2 separate regions of the Homo sapiens genome follow, and region 1 is linked to region 2. The links come from fine-mapping of genetic effects on plasma protein levels. A gene starts in region 2. The other region holds a variant in brackets. All regions are shown on one strand. Distances are from middle to middle.

The links. PIP is the chance, under the fine-mapping model, that this variant and not a neighbour inherited with it causes the effect. Protein levels are from antibody-based Olink assays in UK Biobank. Linkage for the fine-mapping came from a reference panel and not from the study's own genotypes, which makes the PIPs less certain.
Region 1: its variant is fine-mapped to the plasma level of the ADAMTS8 protein (UK Biobank, PIP above 0.99). The variant lies in the coding sequence of ADAMTS8. If it changes the protein, the assay may bind it differently, which can mimic a change of level.

Annotation. Positions count from the first base shown.
Region 1 is chr11:130,402,148-130,411,209 of GRCh38, reverse strand. It overlaps ADAMTS8 (ADAM metallopeptidase with thrombospondin type 1 motif 8), which reads left to right. Exons shown (of 9, transcript NM_007037.6): 7 at 2,270-2,442; 8 at 2,571-2,746; 9 at 5,082-6,287. The coding sequence ends at 5,652. It overlaps ZBTB44-DT (ZBTB44 divergent transcript), which reads right to left. Exons shown (of 7, transcript NR_148980.1): 7 at 7,553-7,909. Among named protein-coding and RNA genes, the nearest start is that of ADAMTS8, 22 kb to the left of the region's middle. The variant G/A (reference allele first, on the strand shown) is at 2,332.
Region 2 is chr11:130,423,599-130,432,741 of GRCh38, reverse strand. ADAMTS8 (ADAM metallopeptidase with thrombospondin type 1 motif 8) reads left to right here and starts at 4,133. Exons shown (of 9, transcript NM_007037.6): 1 at 4,133-5,175. The coding sequence starts at 4,456.

The DNA of each region.
Region 1 (9,062 bases), 21 kb after region 2:
GCTCTCAGGGACCCGGGACAGCTCTCATAGTGTTCAGAGAGCCTGGCAAAGTCAAGGAGAGAAATTACGCTCATCTTCCAAGATGTGGAGAGGAGGACATCACTCCCAACCAAACTTATTGGGGAGGAGCCTCTGCAGAGGGGCTGGTGTCTAGGAAACTAATCCTCCTGGAGGCATAGGAACCCTCATCTGTGTGCAGAATGGAAGCATTTTCCAAAGCAAGTGTCAGAGCCAAACCTCCAAGGTCTTTCTAGCCAAAATTCAGCCCAGGGCAGAGGGAGGATTTCTGAATCTGATTCCTGTTCACATTCCTTCTGAGAAGAGTTGCCCATCTTCCCTTGGGAACATGGCAACTGTTTGACAGAATCTTCCCAGGAAGGAATACTACCTCTCCCTCCCCTTGGCATATTCCTATCCCCAGTACCTGCTGGAAACCATGAACATTAACTTAGAGGCAGTAAAGGGGCAGCAGCAAACTCGTGAGAGGGAAATCATTACAAGGTTTTTCCCCACCATCCCATCCAACTGCCCAGTGTGCAGCTCCAGGAAGGATTGGCAGGCAAGAAAAATCAGGCAGAGCCTTAGGAGAGATTCAACCACGGGAAAAGACACTGGCATTGGGTTGATGTCTCAGGAGAATCTGTAGGCTTTGCGGTTTCACAAGACAAGAAGGATCCACAATGGTTTGAGGCTCTAGAAACTTTGCCCTGGAATTGTATGAGAGTTTGCCTGGCATACAGGGTGAGACGTTGCTGGGAAAGGGGGAGGATGAGAATGAATATAGGGTGCAAGGTAGGTGTGGACGAAAAGTGATGCCATGATGTCAGATGCACCAAAGTCTGCCATTACTGTCGAGTATTTTTTAGTATTTTTTGTGTGTCTAGAACTATAAAAATGTATGAAAATGTAAAAGGCATGGTCTCTGTCCCTAAGGAGCTTGTAGTCCAATTAGAGACCCAAATCCCTTTAACACAGCCATTACATTTCAATGGATGAGTCACAGACCCTAGGTTGGTGAGGCGCTCGGAGAAAGGAAAGGCTGGGTGAGCGGAAGCTTTGAAAGGAGTTAGGACTGAGCAGAGTCTGGAGGACTGAGATGGGTGAGGTGTGAGGGGACCTGCCAGGGTGGTGGAAAGGTGTGAGAAGGGCCCTCATTCACTTAGGTGGAATCAAGCAAAGCACACCACTATGTCAAGGCCAGACCACAGAGGTCCTTGAAGGCTGACACAGTATCTGGGAGTTATCTGTGCCACCTGTCCCATTAAGTCACCTGGAAGCTCCTGCAGACACAGCCCAGACCCCCTCAGCTGCACTGACTCAGAGTCTCAGGCGTGGAGTATGGCATCTGCCTTGGCAAAGTCTCCCCAGGCATTCAGATGCACAGTTTGGGCAGGGAACCTTGGCAGGAAGAACAGCTTTAATTTTAGGATTTGGGGGTGGAAAGCAACCCACATCTAACTTCAGATGGGTTGGTCTGGCAGCAGCACGTGGCAGGATGGAGAGGAGGCAGGCACAGGTCCCCATGAAGCCAGCAGGCCTGGGCTTGTGGTGGTGAGAGTGGGATGCCATCGTTTTAAATCACAGATTGTCCTGAATATAGTGTGGGTCTTTGTGACAGTTTGGAAATAGCAGATAGAGATGCTCAAATGTTCGGGAGATACCAGGATACCAGTCTCAGACTTGGGCATGGTAAGATCAGCAAATGAAAGTCAAGACAGTTCGTGGAAGGACCATCGGGAGCTTGGCCATGCTGAGTTGGAGGTAATCACAGTACATACAAACGGAGCTCCCCAGGGACACCCAGAATTACGGAATGTGGGTGTAGGGGCAAGATCAGAGCTAGACATGTAGATTTAGGAGTCTTTGGATTCATGTCCGGTGTCACTGAGGAAATCGATACTGCACAATTAGTAGTGTCCTGAGAATATAGCTCCACATGCCATTCTGTGCCTTCCAAGCTTACTGAATTGTTCCCTGTTGCTCCCTGCGTTTATTCACCTGTAGAGTACAATGAGTCTCTTTCCCTAATGGAAAGGGCATTTATCCTAGAAAGCCCAGCATGCGGCTGGAGGCTCCTTTCCTTGCCCTTTTGAGTAAGGGTCACACATGCGTCTAGGAATGTTGTGCCCAGAAGACACTGGCCCTGGGCGCCTGGGTTGAGTTCAAAACCAAAAGAAAGAAGAAAAGTGCTGTAAATTCGGGATTTCTCCACCGGATGCTCCTGCTTCCGCATGGGTGTCACCTCCATGCCGTTTCTTCCTCTTTCTAGGGAAAAGCTTCAGGGAGCAGCAGTGTGAGAAGTATAATGCCTACAATTACACTGACATGGAC[G/A]GGAATCTCCTGCAGTGGGTCCCCAAGTATGCTGGGGTGTCCCCCCGGGACCGCTGCAAGTTGTTCTGCCGAGCCCGGGGGAGGAGCGAGTTCAAAGTGTTCGAGGCCAAGGTGAGAATCACCCTGGGACTCAGATCCAGAGATGGGGAGGAAGGTCGCCTGTCCCCACACCCCCGCCCCCCGGCAGGCTGCTTCTGTGCTCAACACGCCCTCCCTCACCTTCCCTTTCCCCGTTGCAGGTGATTGATGGCACCCTGTGTGGGCCAGAAACACTGGCCATCTGTGTCCGTGGCCAGTGTGTCAAGGCCGGCTGTGACCATGTGGTGGACTCGCCTCGGAAGCTGGACAAATGCGGGGTGTGTGGGGGCAAAGGCAACTCCTGCAGGAAGGTCTCCGGGTCCCTCACCCCCACCAAGTGAGTCTCCCCAGAAGTTCTGTACCTTGCTTGGTAGAAGAGCATAATGGGCTTTGCACTCTGCTAGGCCCAAATTGAACTGTGGCTGCTACTTAATAGCTGTGAGGGTTGGGCAAGTTATTTAAACTCTCCGAGCTTCAGTTTCTTTGTAAAATGTCAGCAGTATCTCTATCTCAGAGTCGTTGTAAGGATTTCCTGAGATGGGATGTGCACTTGGCAGTGTCGAGCTCATAGAAAAGATAGAACACAGGGCAGCCGTGACTTTTACGAGGGCTGGAGGCCATGTGGATAGGGAGCTGTCATCTCTGAGTCAATCGAGCCACACTGAGTAACCTGGACCTCTGCCAGAAAACAGCTCTCCCAGGCCTGTTTTGGGAAGGACGTCTCACCCTAAGCCTGGCAAGCCCCTGTCCTTTCTGCAGATGGATCTTCAGAGAAGGGGGTTACCAAAAAGGGGCCCTGGCAGCCTCAGGGCTTTCATGAATCTGAGAACTCCAGACACTTTTTTCTCATCCTAATGCCCCACATTCATAAAACTCCAAGGATTTTCCAAAGCGCTTTCATTTCCATGGTCTCATTTGATTTGTAAAATAAGTCCATGAGGTGAGCAAGGCCAATACTATTCCTCATTTTGCAGAGGAAGAAATTAAGGCACAGAAAGATTAAATGACTTTTCTAAGGTCACATTGATGGTTAATGACAGCCAGAAGAGAACCTAGTTTTCCTAAGTCCTGGATGACTTTTGTCTCCCATTCCATGTACTTCCTGCAGAGTAAGGGCAAGTTCGGGTGTTTTATATGGGCCACACTCTGCCTGTCTGCCTCCAGTACATCAATGTGTCCTAGGGCTTATGTGAGCATCCACCTGTCCAGCCACTTCCCCCACTCACGGTCTCAGAGTTTTTGAGAAGTGTTCACTGTATTGTATTCTACCTAGTGAAGCTCGCAAACCCTGCCCCATTCTGTGTGTGTGTGTGTGTCTGTCTGTCTGTCTGTCTGTCTCTACATCTCTCATCTCACCAGTCTGAGAGAACAGAATCAGCCTACAGCAGGCAACTTGGGACTGTTTTCATTTTTTTTAATTTATTTTTATTATTTTGAGACAGAGTCTCACTCTGTTGCCTAGGCTGGAGTGCGGTGGCACGATCTTGGCTCACTGCAACCTGCTTCCCAGGTTCAAGCAATTCTCCTGCCTCAGCTTCCCAGGTAGCTGGGATTACAGGCATGCACCACCACACCCAGCTAATTTTTGTATTTTTAGTAGAGACTGGGTTTCGTCATGTTGGCCAGGCTGGTCTTGAACTCCTGGCATCAAGTGATCCGCCCGCCTTGGCCTCCCAAAGTGCTGGGATTGTGGGTATGAGCCACTGCGCCCTGCCTTGGAACTCTTTTTACATTTAAGCTCAAAAGACATAGAAAAAGAGAAGCAGACACTATTCAGATACTGGGTCCCTTGGCCACTTTCCCTCAGGCTTTAGACAGATGGGCCTGTGGACACTCTAAGAGTCTGAAACTAAGCAGCTAGCCCCAGCTGGACATATGGTAAGAAAAGCAAAAAGCCCGCCTGACCACTCGCCTCACTTTCTCCCCAGCCTATGGAACCCAGATTTCCAGAAAAGAACAAACAACTAATCTTTCTTCATCCTACCTAAAGCCCTAAGCCTATAATGGACTGGAAACAGTTTCCCAAAACTGCTTCCTATCATTCCAGAAGCACAGTGCTCATGGTGCCTGGGCACTCCCAGAAGGTGGCTTCAAAGAAGCAGGCTTAAACCCCCAACTCCCAACCCCACCCTGATCCCACCCTAGGGCCATATTCATCAAATACTAGGAGCCGACTGACTCAGAGAGGTGGTGTGAAATTTCCCTCCTGTTCACGTTCTGGAAGGGGTGTGTGGAACAGTTTTTTCCATGTGGGTTTGAGCTCTGGGTATGGAGGTGGCCAATCAAAGTTGTATACCAGTGCAAGGAGCTAGAGGTATTTGAGATCACATTTGACAGGTGCCAGGTTTGGCTACACCAGTGCAGCTTTCCACATCCTTCTGGGTTCTCCTCGTCTCTATGCTGTTCTCAACACCCACATACCTCAACTCCTCAACCACACTTTTGAAATAGAGTTGCCAGATGAAGCAAACACCCTTGAAAATCCCAATGTACAGACATTTCTGTCTGCCTAAACAGCTAATTTATTGAGAACTTTGAGGCAACTTGCTTAATTACTTGCTTTGTTTTTTTCGTGTCTGCCACCTGGGGTGCCCACTTCAGTCTCCAAGGCATCATCGTGACCTGGGCTGGGCAGCCACTGGTCTAAGGGTGTCCTTCTGTTTCTATCACAGTTATGGCTACAATGACATTGTCACCATCCCAGCTGGTGCCACTAATATTGACGTGAAGCAGCGGAGCCACCCGGGTGTGCAGAACGATGGGAACTACCTGGCGCTGAAGACGGCTGATGGGCAGTACCTGCTCAACGGCAACCTGGCCATCTCTGCCATAGAGCAGGACATCTTGGTGAAGGGGACCATCCTGAAGTACAGCGGCTCCATCGCCACCCTGGAGCGCCTGCAGAGCTTCCGGCCCTTGCCAGAGCCTCTGACAGTGCAGCTCCTGACAGTCCCTGGCGAGGTCTTCCCCCCAAAAGTCAAATACACCTTCTTTGTTCCTAATGACGTGGACTTTAGCATGCAGAGCAGCAAAGAGAGAGCAACCACCAACATCATCCAGCCGCTGCTCCACGCACAGTGGGTGCTGGGGGACTGGTCTGAGTGCTCTAGCACCTGCGGGGCCGGCTGGCAGAGGCGAACTGTAGAGTGCAGGGACCCCTCCGGCCAGGCCTCTGCCACCTGCAACAAGGCTCTGAAACCCGAGGATGCCAAGCCCTGCGAAAGCCAGCTGTGCCCCCTGTGATTCAGGGGGGCAGGGGCCAGTCTTGTGCTCCTGGACATGCGGTACTGAGGTGCAGACAAGGGTCTCCACTGTGGTGACTGGGTCCCTTGGCCATATCAAGGCAGCACGGCCCACCCAGGCCTCCCATTGCCGCAACCCCTCCAGTACTGCACAAATTCCTAAGGGGGAAGAGGAGAGGGTATGGGGCGGCAGACCCTATCATCAACTGTCCAGTGGACTGGACCTTGCTCGGGTTCAAGTAGAGGGCATAGGTTAAAAGGTAAAAGTGCACTTATTGACTCAGACAGGACACTCAGCGTCAGTCTGTTTGCAAAGGACTAGCAAACTTAAATGAAAAAAAAAATTCTATCTGGTTTCCCCGATAAATAATCTACCTCACAGGGGAAAAAATTAGTACAAGAGAGGCGTGGGGCAGGGAGTCAATGGTGAATGTCAAAGCAGGCTCCAAAGCTGGACCCCAAGCTGTCTTCAAGAATGACCACGACTGTCTTCAGTGTTAAAATCCATCACCTAAAGGGCCGCAGCGTCGCAGGGTTTGGAGAGCCACATGTTCTCAGGCTGCCACCTGCAGGGGTGGATCCATTTCAAGTATTTATGCAAATGTGTCTCTGAACTAAAGTGTGATCTTATGCCAATGCAGTGGTCTGGTCTGATTCATTGTTTCTTTGGAAAGGGCAGCAACCTAGAACCCAGGGATGGAGGCTGAAACTAGGTCAGCAGCTGGATCCCTGCCTGCTCTGGGTCCTCACAGGCCTGCAGAATCCAGCTCATTCGGGCAACTTTCATTTGCAGGATCTAGACCAGTGGTTCCCAAGGTTTCATTAGGATCACGTAGAGGGCTGTGAAAATGGATTGTGAGGCTGGGCACAGTGGCTCACACCTGTCATTCCAGCACTTTGGGAGGCTGAGGCAGGAGGATTGCCTGAGCCCAGGAGTTCAAGACCAGCCATGACAATATGGCGAGACCCTGTTTCTATAAAAAATTAAAAAACGAAATCAGTCGGTCATGGTGGTACAGGCCTGTAGTCCCAGCTACTCAGGAGGCTGAGGTGGGAGGGTCACTTGAGCCCAGGAGGTTGAGGCTGCAGTGAGCCATTTTCATGCCACTGCACTCCAGCCTGGATGACACAGTGAGACCCTGTCTCAAAAAAAAAAAAAAAGAAAGAAAGAAAGAAAAGAAAACACAGATTGTGGGGCCCCATCCCCAGAGTTTCTGATCTAATGGTTGGGGTGGCCTGAGAATCTGCATTTCTAACAAGTTCCCAGTGACTGACATGGAGGCTGCTGGTTTGGGAGCCACACTGTGAACACCTGTGCTACAGGAAACGTCCAGCTGGGAGATCACAATTGTTATGCGATGCCTTTGGGCTCATCATTCTTGAGAAAGAATATCCCCTTCCTCTCTGTGAGCTACCCCATCATCCTCTTACATGCTGCCTGCCTCCTTTTAGTTTAGCTGGGGGCACCAGATCCTCAGCCCCTACTCCGCTCCATAGCTCCTCATCTCTCCTGTGGCTCAGAGGAACTCTGGCTCAGTCTTCCACCTGGTCTGGTGCAGAGGGAACTTACTTAGTCCCTGATCACAAATGGGTGACAAGAAACAGACATCAAGAAATGACATTCTAGCAAAAGAAGGAAAATACCCAAATGTGCATCTTGGTTTTTTTCACCACCTGTGCCCCCTTTGTCCTCCCATTCAGATATCTGGCACCATGGGCAGAGAGGATGCTGTAGGGGCACTAGGCAAGGCCATGAGATTCCAGCCCCACTGTTCCCCTTAGCTGCTCTCTACACGATGACAGCTGACTCAGAGTTGGTCACTCCTTCTTGTCTGCCTACTCTTTTCAGCGAGTGGGAGGCTGGGCTTACCTAAGCATAAACAGGCACACACACAGGCATGTTGTTGATGACTAGCAAAACCAGATTGTTTCCCTGCTGTGCACCAGTTTTGTGGAGGCTGATGTATGCTTCCGCAACTCTTCATCGCCTTCCATTTCTCGCTCTCCCCCAAATAAGGCCAAGCGTGTCCCCCTTAACGGCCTAAGCCAGGCCAGCTGTGCCATCCCTGCTGCCTGCATCATTACCAGGCACAGCTTTTGCCCTGGAGTTCAGCTGGCAGCAGAGCTGCTGATGTGCAAAGCAGAATGGAATCCAGCTTGGCTCTCCCGGTTGTGTGGGCTCGGCGAGGCTCTCAGAACGCATACTTGTTTGTGTCTGGAAATTCAACAGCTGCAGCCCAGGGACTCAGAAACCAGATCTGCAGAGGAAGACCACACCATTATCTGCCCCAGCCAACCACGACCACTCTGTGCACCCAGAGAAGGAGAGAAGACTGTATTTCCTCTGCTGAAAGATTGTGTTTTCCAGCTAGTGCTCCTAATGGAAACTGGTACTCTCTTCTAATGGGAGGCCCTGACTTGGCAGGTAATTTGGTCATTAATCTGAATCCTCCAGGCACCTGCCAGAAATACTTCGAAGGTGGTACAGTAGCATAAAGTTAATTTCCAACCTTTCATTTTTAAGATAAGTGAATCTTTATCTGGGGTTTATCCTCTGCCCTTTATTCCTCTATCACAGATCAGAGGGTTTTGTGAATTTACAAAAGTATGCAATATTACTATTCCCAGTCCACTCTAGCAGACCACCCCTCTCCCAGGAACATATTCCAGGGGTGGTAGGACCCATCTCACTAGATCCGCATCTGTTCTCTGATGACATCCACCTGCTTCTACATCCTTTGTGCTTGAACTTTTTAACCAAGTCACCCTCTTAGTGAGGACTCTTCCTCTTTTCTGGTGTCCAAACATGTCACCCTTCCTGTTTTCCTCTGGAGTGTGCTCCGGAGTTGTTTCAAACCACCCCTCCCTCCCCACACCCCCCAAAAAACAAAACTACAAATGACAAGAACAATTGGAAAGTTCTTAAGGGATACTGGCTTTTGCTTTGTCTTGATATTTTCCACTTGTGGTCCAGGGCAGATAAAGAGGGAGGCCTTGTCAGCCCTGCGCTATGGCGTCTGCAGCGTTGAGCAGCTGCGTGTACTGGGCTTTCCTGCGTGGTGCAGACTACCCTGCCCAGGTGCCCCTGGTCCCAGGAGGGGAGGCTCGTGAACCCCGCAGCAATCTCGACTCCGTGTGCTCTGCCCCAGATCACCAGGTCCCTCCAGGAACCTGCAGCATTTCCTTTGCTGTTTGGGAATTCAAAATGGTTTCTCGAAAAATGTGAACAGGAAGGCAGAATTTATCAAAGAGGACTAGATGTAGCACGACCCTTGGATTCCCAGATTTCTGCTGCCACAGACTCATCACTTCTTTTTGCCCCTATGATGAGTTGAAGCTACATTTCGGAACACATGGCCCCAAAAAACAGGAGACGGGGTGAACATCATGAGGACGGTGATGACGTCTTCT
Region 2 (9,143 bases):
CTCTGTCTCAAAAAAAAAAAAAAGTGCTCAGAACAATGCCCAGGCCCATAGTAAACACTAAACTTTACTGAAAATGTACGAATTGTAAATGAAGTTCTAAAGCAAAACAATTTTTTTATCTTCATGTAGAGGATACGATAGTATTTTGGGGAAAAAAATTCATCACTAGTTATGTCATTTTGGGTAAGTCACTGAAACCTCTGAATTTCTGTTTCTTCTCTGCAAAATGTGAGTGGCAGTGGATTAGATGATCACCATTGTTTCTTCCCGTTTTAAGGAGTCTGGAATTCTAAAGAATACCAGAACTTATATACACTAAAAATGTATCATATATACCATATAAAACTCTAGTTATAAACTAAGAAATAAGCAGTCACTAATAATGTAAGTTGATCAAAAACTTAAAAATCACTATAGGCCTACAGTATAAGACACCATAAACATAAAAATCTTTTAATTATTAAGGATGGATTAAATAATAAGCAACTATTAGATACAGAATTAAAGACAAAACAAAGATATTTTCATTTTTTATATAATTTCCTTTTCACATTCAGAGCAAGCAATTATTTTGAGCTTCTTATTCCATAAGAATGGCATATAGCGAGCTTAAGTAATCCCAGATTCCAAATTTGAGGAATCCAAATTGATGCTCTTTTACATTCAGGAGTCAGCAAACTTTTCTGCAAAGAGCCAGATAGTAAATATTTTAGGCTTACTCAACCCTTCCCTCGCAGCTCAAGAGCAAAGAATGCGTACATGAATGGCTGTGGCTGCATTCCAATAAACTTTATTTATGGACACAAATTTGAATTTCATACCATTTTCAAGTGTCAAGAAATTTTAATATTCTTTCTAATTTTTTTAATTTACCACTTAAAAATATAAAAACTATTCTTAGCTTGTAGAGTGCAAAAAAACAAGCAGTGTGCAGCAATTAGCCCAAGGGCCGTAGTTTGGCAACCCTGCCGTAATTACATATTTTGGGAAATAAAGTAGTAATGTAAGAAATCCGGAATTGGCAGAATGCCGTTATGGGATTTTCACGGGTTGGTTTGTTGATGTTTGTTTTGCTGCACTGTTTTCACCTGCCACTCCTCTAAGAGCGGCCACTACAAACCACCCACCCTTTCTCGCTCCCTGTGGCAAGGGTCCTGGGTTTAACATAGCCAGGTCCTGGGTTTAACATAGCCAGGTCCTGGGTTTAACATAGCCAGGTCCTGGGTTTAACATAGCCAGGTCCTGGGTTTAACATAGCCAGGTCCTGGGTTTAACATAGCCAAGGTAAGCCTGACACCTTGTGGTTGCATTGCGAACGGCAGGAGCTACCTTGGAAGTTAGCAGCACTGCACATCTGGGGAAGGGGAAATCCAGGAGGGAGCGGGGACTGCGGGGCCAGTCAATGAACCAGTCAGCAGGTGGTGGTGGTGGTGGTGGCGGCGGCGGCGGTGGTGGGTGGTGGGGGTGGTGGGGGTGGTGGTGATGTTGTTGTTGAAATGAGGAAGGATAAAGTCCAGAACTCACTATCTGACTTCTCTCTCCAAAGAGAACTTCCAAAATGCTACCTATGGGGGCACTTCATCCTATTAAAAAAATGAAGCAGCAGTGGCCAGGCTCGGTGGCTCACGCCTGTAATCCCAGTACTTTGGGAGGCCAAGGTGGGAGAATCACCTGACGTCAGGAGTTCAAGACCAGCCTGACCAACATGGTGAAACCCTGTCTCTACTAAAAAAAAAAAAAAACATCAGCCGGGCATGGTGGCAGGAGCCTGTAATCCCAGCTGCTTGGGAGGCTGAGGCAAGAGAATCACTTGAACCCTGGAGGCGGTTTCAGTGAGCTGAGATCTCGCCATTGCACTCCAGCCTGGGTAACAAGAGCGAAACGCCATCTCAAAAAATTAAAAACTAAAATAAAAATGAAGCAGCAACTTCCAGAGCCTTCACAACCAAAGGCTCCATGGACACTCAAGACTTTCCTTGGTTCAGTTAAATCTCCCACTTCTAGCCCTTAGCATTCGGGCGGGAGAAAGGGAAACTGGGCACGCTCCTCACTCCCACTCCTCCCAGATGCTTACACTCGAGAAAGAAGGAAAACCCACAGGACCTAACTGCTACTGAAAATCAGGAGTTAGCTGGCACAGTAGCTCACACCTATAATCCCAGCACTTTGGGAGGTTGAGGCAGGCGGATCACCTGAGGTCAGGAGTTGGAGACCAGCCTGGCCAAAATGGTGAAACCCCATCTCTACTGAAAGTACAAAAGTTAGCCAGGTGTGGTGGTGCCTGCCTGCAGTCTCAGCTACTTGGGAGGCTGAGGCAGGAGAATCTCTTGAACCTGAGAGGGAGAAGTTGCTGTAAGCCAAGATCGCACCATTGCACTCCAGCCTGGGTGACAAAGTGAGACTGTGTCTCAAAAAGAGAAAATCAGGAGTTGTACTCTGGGAAACAGCAAATAAGGGGCTTCAAGGAGGTAAAAACCAGTCATTGAACTGTTACAATAGCCCTGAGGCAACACAGAGTTGTATTCATTGCTTGCCCAGGTCAGACTGTCCCAAGCACTGTACAGGATGTCCCAAGCACTGTACACTGTGCTAGGACGAAGTGTTTTGCTTGTTTTGAGAAAAGGGTTGAAGAGACCATTCTTTCCATTGTCCTTCCTCTAGAAGTGTTTCCCCAAAACATTCTAGACTCGTTATTCCTATCCTATAAATTATGCAGGAAAGGAGGTTCTGCACCATGCTAGGTTGGGAAGTTCATCCTTTCATCTAATTCACAGCTGTCCCTCTGTGTTTCTGAGAAAGCAAAGAGAGGGGGGATACTTAGAGGGAATTTGGCAGCACTTTCCCCTGGGCAAGAGCCTCCTCTTTGGAGGTAACAAGCCCTGAGAGTCTCAGATGCATGCTGAACCACCACACTGCAGGAAGGGGTCAGATGGGCTGAAAAGAATCAGCGATGACCTCGACTGTCAACATCCCCAGCATAAGCACAGAGCTGGGTACCTGGGGGCAGGTGAATTGGCAAAGGATTTAAAGGCCCTGATCCCAGCGGTTCCTAATGCATCACCCACATTGACAACTCAGAGAAAGGCACAGTTGGTGGATGAGTCTAGAGTTTGTAGGTAGAGAACAGGGCCCTCCACCCAATCCAGACCTGTGTCATTGAGACTGGGATGGGATGCAGTTTTGTGGTCTTGAGACCATGTCATCCCTCTCTTCCTGAATACTACCCCCTTCCCTAGGGGGCAGTGGTGACATGGGACAGAATAAATTCACCTCATACACATTTGTTCCTGGGGCTGTGGCAACGCAGTGAAAGGGCCTGCCACCTTACTTGAAGTCCCGGGCAACTAGCAGTATCCAGAAGAGAAGACCTTTTTCAGGGACTGGAGGTCTGTTTCCCTCTTGGGGAAATGCTAACTTCCAACCTCAGTGCTGGTAACTTACCACTGTGCTGGCCTCTGCCCCACCTGCCCTCTAACAGGACAGTGAGAGTCCCTCTTAGGGTTAACCAGGTGGGTTGTTTTTTGTTTTGTTTTTGTTTTCCCCATCTTCAGTTTGGAGTGAAAGTTAGGAAGGCTGTGCAGTAGTGATGAGAGGAGGGCATGATTTTAGCATGACCTTTTCCTCCTCTCCCTTTATGCTTTACAATGAAAAGCTCAGGAACCTTCTCCCCACACAGTCGGATCTCCGGAGGCATCTGCAGGGATCCCAACAGTGTCGGGCTCTGCAGTCGGACTCTGCAGGGATCCGAACAGGGTCGCTGAGACCAGTGCACGAGCCTCTTCGGAAGATGCATCCTGGACTCTTGGCCGCAGAGGAGAAAGCGGTTGGGGTCTCCCAGGGACTCTTTCTAAAGGGTCAGTCCAGCATGGTAGGGGTTAACGTGGGTCCACGCGTAGAGGGAAAGGAAAGAAGTTGTAGTTGACACTTCAGGGGGGCGGGTGGCGGACGGGTCTCGCTGCCTGATTGGTTTTGCATTTCATCCCAATTTTTTTTTCTCCACTCTCTCTCCCTCTTTTCAGTTTCTCTCTCTGATCCCAGGGGAGGGGAAACGGGAATAGTGAGAGATCAAAAATAAACCTCTTATGTCAAGCCGGGAAGGAAGTATAAATAAGAAGGGCTCGGCAGCCCACTCGGTGCTTCCCGGGGTGGGGAGGAGGCAGGAGGCGGCTGCGCGGGGCTGGCGCGGGCAGGGGCGGAGGACGGGCGCACGCGGGCCGGGGCCAGCTGCTCGCGCTCGGCTCGGGGGCGGCGGCGCGGGAGGAGCGGGCTGCGCCAGCCAGAGGGGCCGCCGGGGGAGCGCTCCCGCCGCCGGGCCCCGCGGGCCGAGTCGGCCTTGCACCCGATTGATTCCGCTTTTCCTGGAGAGAGCGGCCGGGCCGCGCTCGGGCCGCCAGCACCTGCCCGCGCCTGGCGGGCTTCTTCCCTCTCCTGCGCGCAGCCACCGCCGCAGCCCCCATGCTCCCCGCCCCCGCCGCCCCCCGGTGGCCTCCGCTCCTGCTGCTGCTGCTGCTGCTGCTGCCGCTGGCCCGCGGCGCCCCGGCCCGGCCCGCAGCCGGGGGGCAGGCCTCGGAGCTGGTGGTGCCCACGCGGTTGCCCGGCAGCGCGGGCGAGCTCGCGCTCCACCTGTCCGCCTTCGGCAAGGGCTTCGTGCTGCGCCTGGCGCCCGACGACAGCTTCCTAGCGCCCGAGTTCAAGATCGAGCGCCTCGGGGGCTCCGGCCGGGCGACCGGGGGCGAGCGGGGGCTGCGCGGCTGCTTCTTCTCCGGCACCGTGAATGGGGAGCCCGAGTCGCTGGCGGCGGTCAGCCTGTGCCGCGGGCTGAGCGGCTCCTTCCTGCTGGACGGCGAGGAGTTCACCATCCAGCCGCAGGGCGCGGGGGGCTCCCTGGCTCAGCCGCACCGCCTGCAGCGCTGGGGTCCCGCCGGAGCCCGCCCCCTCCCGCGAGGACCCGAGTGGGAGGTGGAGACGGGAGAGGGTCAGAGGCAGGAGAGAGGAGACCACCAGGAGGACAGCGAGGAGGAGAGCCAAGAAGAGGAGGCAGAAGGCGCTAGCGAGCCGCCACCGCCCCTGGGGGCCACGAGTAGGACCAAGCGGTTTGTGTCTGAGGCGCGCTTCGTGGAGACGCTGCTGGTGGCCGATGCGTCCATGGCTGCCTTCTACGGGGCCGACCTGCAGGTAGGACTGAGAGCCTCCTCCAGCCGCCGTGCCCGGAGGCCCCCCAGACGCCTCCCAGCGTCTCTAAAATCTCCCCTTCCAATCCCTCTGAGAAAAAAAAAAAAAAAAAAAAAAAGCCCTCCCCACTCATCTTCTCCAGCCTTACCCCAAACGAGATTCTCTCCTGTCTGAGAAAGAGCAGTAACTCTTTTCTGAACTTCTGCCACCCTGGATCCCTGCGCCCCCACCCCCAGGTCCCTTCCAGTTTAGAGTGGGGCTGCCGACGCCCATCCCTCTCATCCGAATCTCCCGCGGCACGTGGCGCACTGACCCGAAAGTGGGTATCAACGCATTCCCCGGCACCTGCCTCTCCCAGCAGAGATGAAAATTGAGCGTTTACGAATAGCTCCCACTCCCACCCCTCAGCCCTCTACTGCCTCCAGATCTGAGAGGCTCCCAGGGAAAGGCAGATGGGATGGAGAGAGATGGCTGTCTGATTCCCTTGGGTATGGAGGTCGCCATAAGCAAAAGACATTGTTTGAAAGGAGCTGAACCTGGAGAGGGGCTGCCCAACTTCTGTGCAGCCAGCTGGTTGTGATCAATGGGGCATGGACTACCTTGCCAACCTGGCGCTCAGCCCCGGCAGAACTTGGCAATGCCAGCAGCCAGCACAAGAGGGAGGGGCAGAGAACTTCTGCCTGGGGGCTCAGCCCAGGAGCTGAAGCTTTGGTGGAAACGCGAGGGGCGCAGGGGCTGGAACGAGCTCTTTGGGTGAATGTCTCTAGTAAAGCCAGACCCACACTTGGTCCACCCAGCTGCCCTTAGCCCAGACACAGCTCTTACCTAAACAGGGGAGAAAAACAGAGTCCAGGGGATGGCTACCTAACCAGACCATTTCTAACTAGATGCAAAGATGGTGCTGACTCAGCAGGAGGTGTCTGTGTTGCCCTAAACCCCAATTTCTCCCCTAAAGACCAGGTGAAGGCTTTTCCAGGAGGAAAAGAGGGTAAGGCTTCCAGAAGAGGGGTGCTCTTTGCCCCTAGGGAGCACAGAACCAGAGATGTGCCAGGGAAGGAAGAACTGACCTGCCCAGACGTCATAGTTCCCTGAAACAGGGATCCTGGCAATGCAGCAGCTAAGCTGACACTTTGTGGTGATGGCATCCTTGGCCGGGACCCAATACTAGGCTCAGTCTGTGCCCGACTGCTGGGGGCCCCAAGGGCATAGGCATTGCCTGTGCAGAATAGTCCAGACAAGGAGGCGATCAGCCTTCTGTTTCTCACCCCATCTTTCCCACCCTCTATCACTGGGAAAGGCAGGGTAGGAAAGACCCAGGGAGAAACAGATGATTAGGATGGGAACTGCTGTGGGTGAGAGTCCACGTGGCTGCCCCTCTGGCTACTGCAGGTGCTGACTACACCCCAGGGACGCACCCCTGCAAGCCCTTGTGGTATTTGCTTCCCCAAAAGCAGGGCAGAGCAGCTTTGGGTCACGCTGATTTAACACCTGTTTCCCTGCCTGTCCTGAGAGCACGGAGCGGTGGGAGCACCAGCCCTCTCCTCTGACTCCTTTCTTTAAGCAAGTACTAGAGAGTGTGGCAGGAGAGGGGTGAGAAGAGGGCTTCTCCCATCTCTTTAGGACCCCCACACCTGGCTCCTAGGGGGCTCCACCAGAAAGAAGCTAAGATGGCCGGGCACGGTGGCTCAAGCCTGTAATCCCAGCACTTTAGGAGGCCGAGGTGGGCAGATCGCAAGCTCAGGAGATCAAGACCATCCTGGCTAACACGGTGAAACCCCGTCTCTACTAAAAATACAAAAAAAATAGCCAGGCGTGGTGGTGGGCGCCTGTAGTCCCAGCTACTCGGGAGGCTGAGGCAGGAGAATGGTGTCAACTCAGGAGGCAGAGCTTGCAGTGAGCGGAGACCGCGCCACTGCACTCCAGCCTGGGTGACAGAGCAAGACTCCATCTTAAAAAAAAAAAAAAAGAAAAAAGAAAAACACAAAAAAAGTAAGAAGCTAAGATGCACCCATTGCAAACCCAGAGCGGGGTGCTACACCCCTCTACCCCCACACATGGAACAGATTCTGACATCTACCTAAGAACCAAAACATAGGAAAGCCAAGAGAACTCCGTGCCAGCAGAGAAAGTCCATTTTTCAGCCTTCAGGGCCAGACTGTCTCACTCTCTCAGCTGATCACCTGGACGCTGGAGATAACTGAGTATTTGCCTCAGGGACATACTCGCATCTCCAGACATCCTAGCTATCTAGAGGCAGACATGCTCTGAGGCCCGACCCCAGGATGCCCGGGCTGCTGAAGCAGGAGACTCTGCTTGGGTTTGCACCCGATTTTGTTCCCTTCAGCTTAAAGTTCAGGTCTGCTGCCCCAGACAATTCGGCTTTCTCTGTGTCAGAGACACCCAGGCATTGCCATCCTCATGAGACTCCTGACCGGGCGATGTGGCTCCTGCTTGCCCCGCTCCCCATCCCCCACAAACACGCATTTCTGGACCTTTCCCAGCTGCACATTGGCACCTGCACACCCAGCCAGCCCACCTGGACCAGGAGAGCGCAGCAAAACAGGCATCGGGCACCTCTGAAGGCTGAGTTCCTCTCCCTAGGGGGTTGACTTCTGAGTCTCACCTGGAAGAAAAGTCTTCCCTCAGGGAGACTAGCCCCGCCACCTCCACCCTGGGTCTCATGTCCCATCCCACCTGTGCTCCTGCTGCCACCGTGGCGGGTGGGGGAGGGACTGAGGTACAGCTGTGTCCAGGACCACCCTCGGGCCCCTGTGCTATGATGAGCTGACCAGCCTTGGAGATGCTGCAGGACAGGCGTGACTGTCTCAGCTCAGTCCCCTGCGCTTCCGAAAACAGATCCATGAGCCCAGCTGAGAGAAGAATGAAAATCAAGTTCCCGTGCCTCAAGACCTTGGCTGCCCACACCCACCTCCTGCAAATGGAAGCCAGTCCTTTATGTGGAGACCTCATTCACACAGAGGGAAGGCACTCTGGGGTGATTACTCTTGGTAATCAGGGGTGTGGAGGATGAGAAGAGCCTTTACCTCTCTAGGGCTTAGAGTTCCTCATCTGTGAAGCAGGACACCTGGACTAGGTGATCAATCCCGGTCTGAGCACCTGTGTGGCTGCTTCATGATGAGCCAGTCTTCTGGAAGGTTTAGCCACTCTCTGAGCGTGTTCAATTCACAGCGTGGTTTTACACACATCACCTCCATGAAAATACCAGTGAGGGGGGCAGAGGGAGACTGCACAGCTCACAGAGGACATGTGGCTTCCTCAGGATCAGACAGCACCGATCAGGATCAGTAAGTGGCAGGGCTGGGCCTGCAGACCAAGTCTCCCAAAGCTGAATCCTGTGCACTGTTATCCCACCAGGCGGCCTCTTTCTCAGGACTAGGGTCTGTGGCTCTGTCGACCCTCTGATACTTGCTTATGTTGTGGGAGTGGGTCTTTAAATCCAGCAGTTCAAAGCCATCCAGGCCCACTGTGAGGCCCTATCCTGCAAAGAAACCGCCGTGGAGGCTGAGAGAAAGAACGCACCACTGCCAAAGCTGGTCTCACTATGTTACGCGACAATGAAGTTTTCCAGAGCTCTGTCAATTGAGTTCATTTAATCCCATGAGAAAAGGGGCCCCTGTCTCCCACCTTCTTATCTGGTTTCAGAGTTAAGGAGCTCAGACAGAGGGGCCTTTCTGAAAGGAGGGACCACCTGGGAAGACTCCATTAGCTCTGTCTACGTCCAGCTGCTGCTCAGTGTCCCCTGTGTGAACCCGGGGCGAGATGGAGTGAGGGGCAGCATGGCAGTGCCCACTCTCGCCAGCCTGGGACGCCTGTCCCGCCAGTGCTTCTGCAGTGAGCAGAGTTTTCGAGTCCTCTTCTTAGCAGAGAGGGTCCGAAAAGTGGCGCTCATCTTCCCAAAGTCCAGCAGAACACTCGCAGGAGGTCAGATTCTGGGGACTGACTTCAGGGAC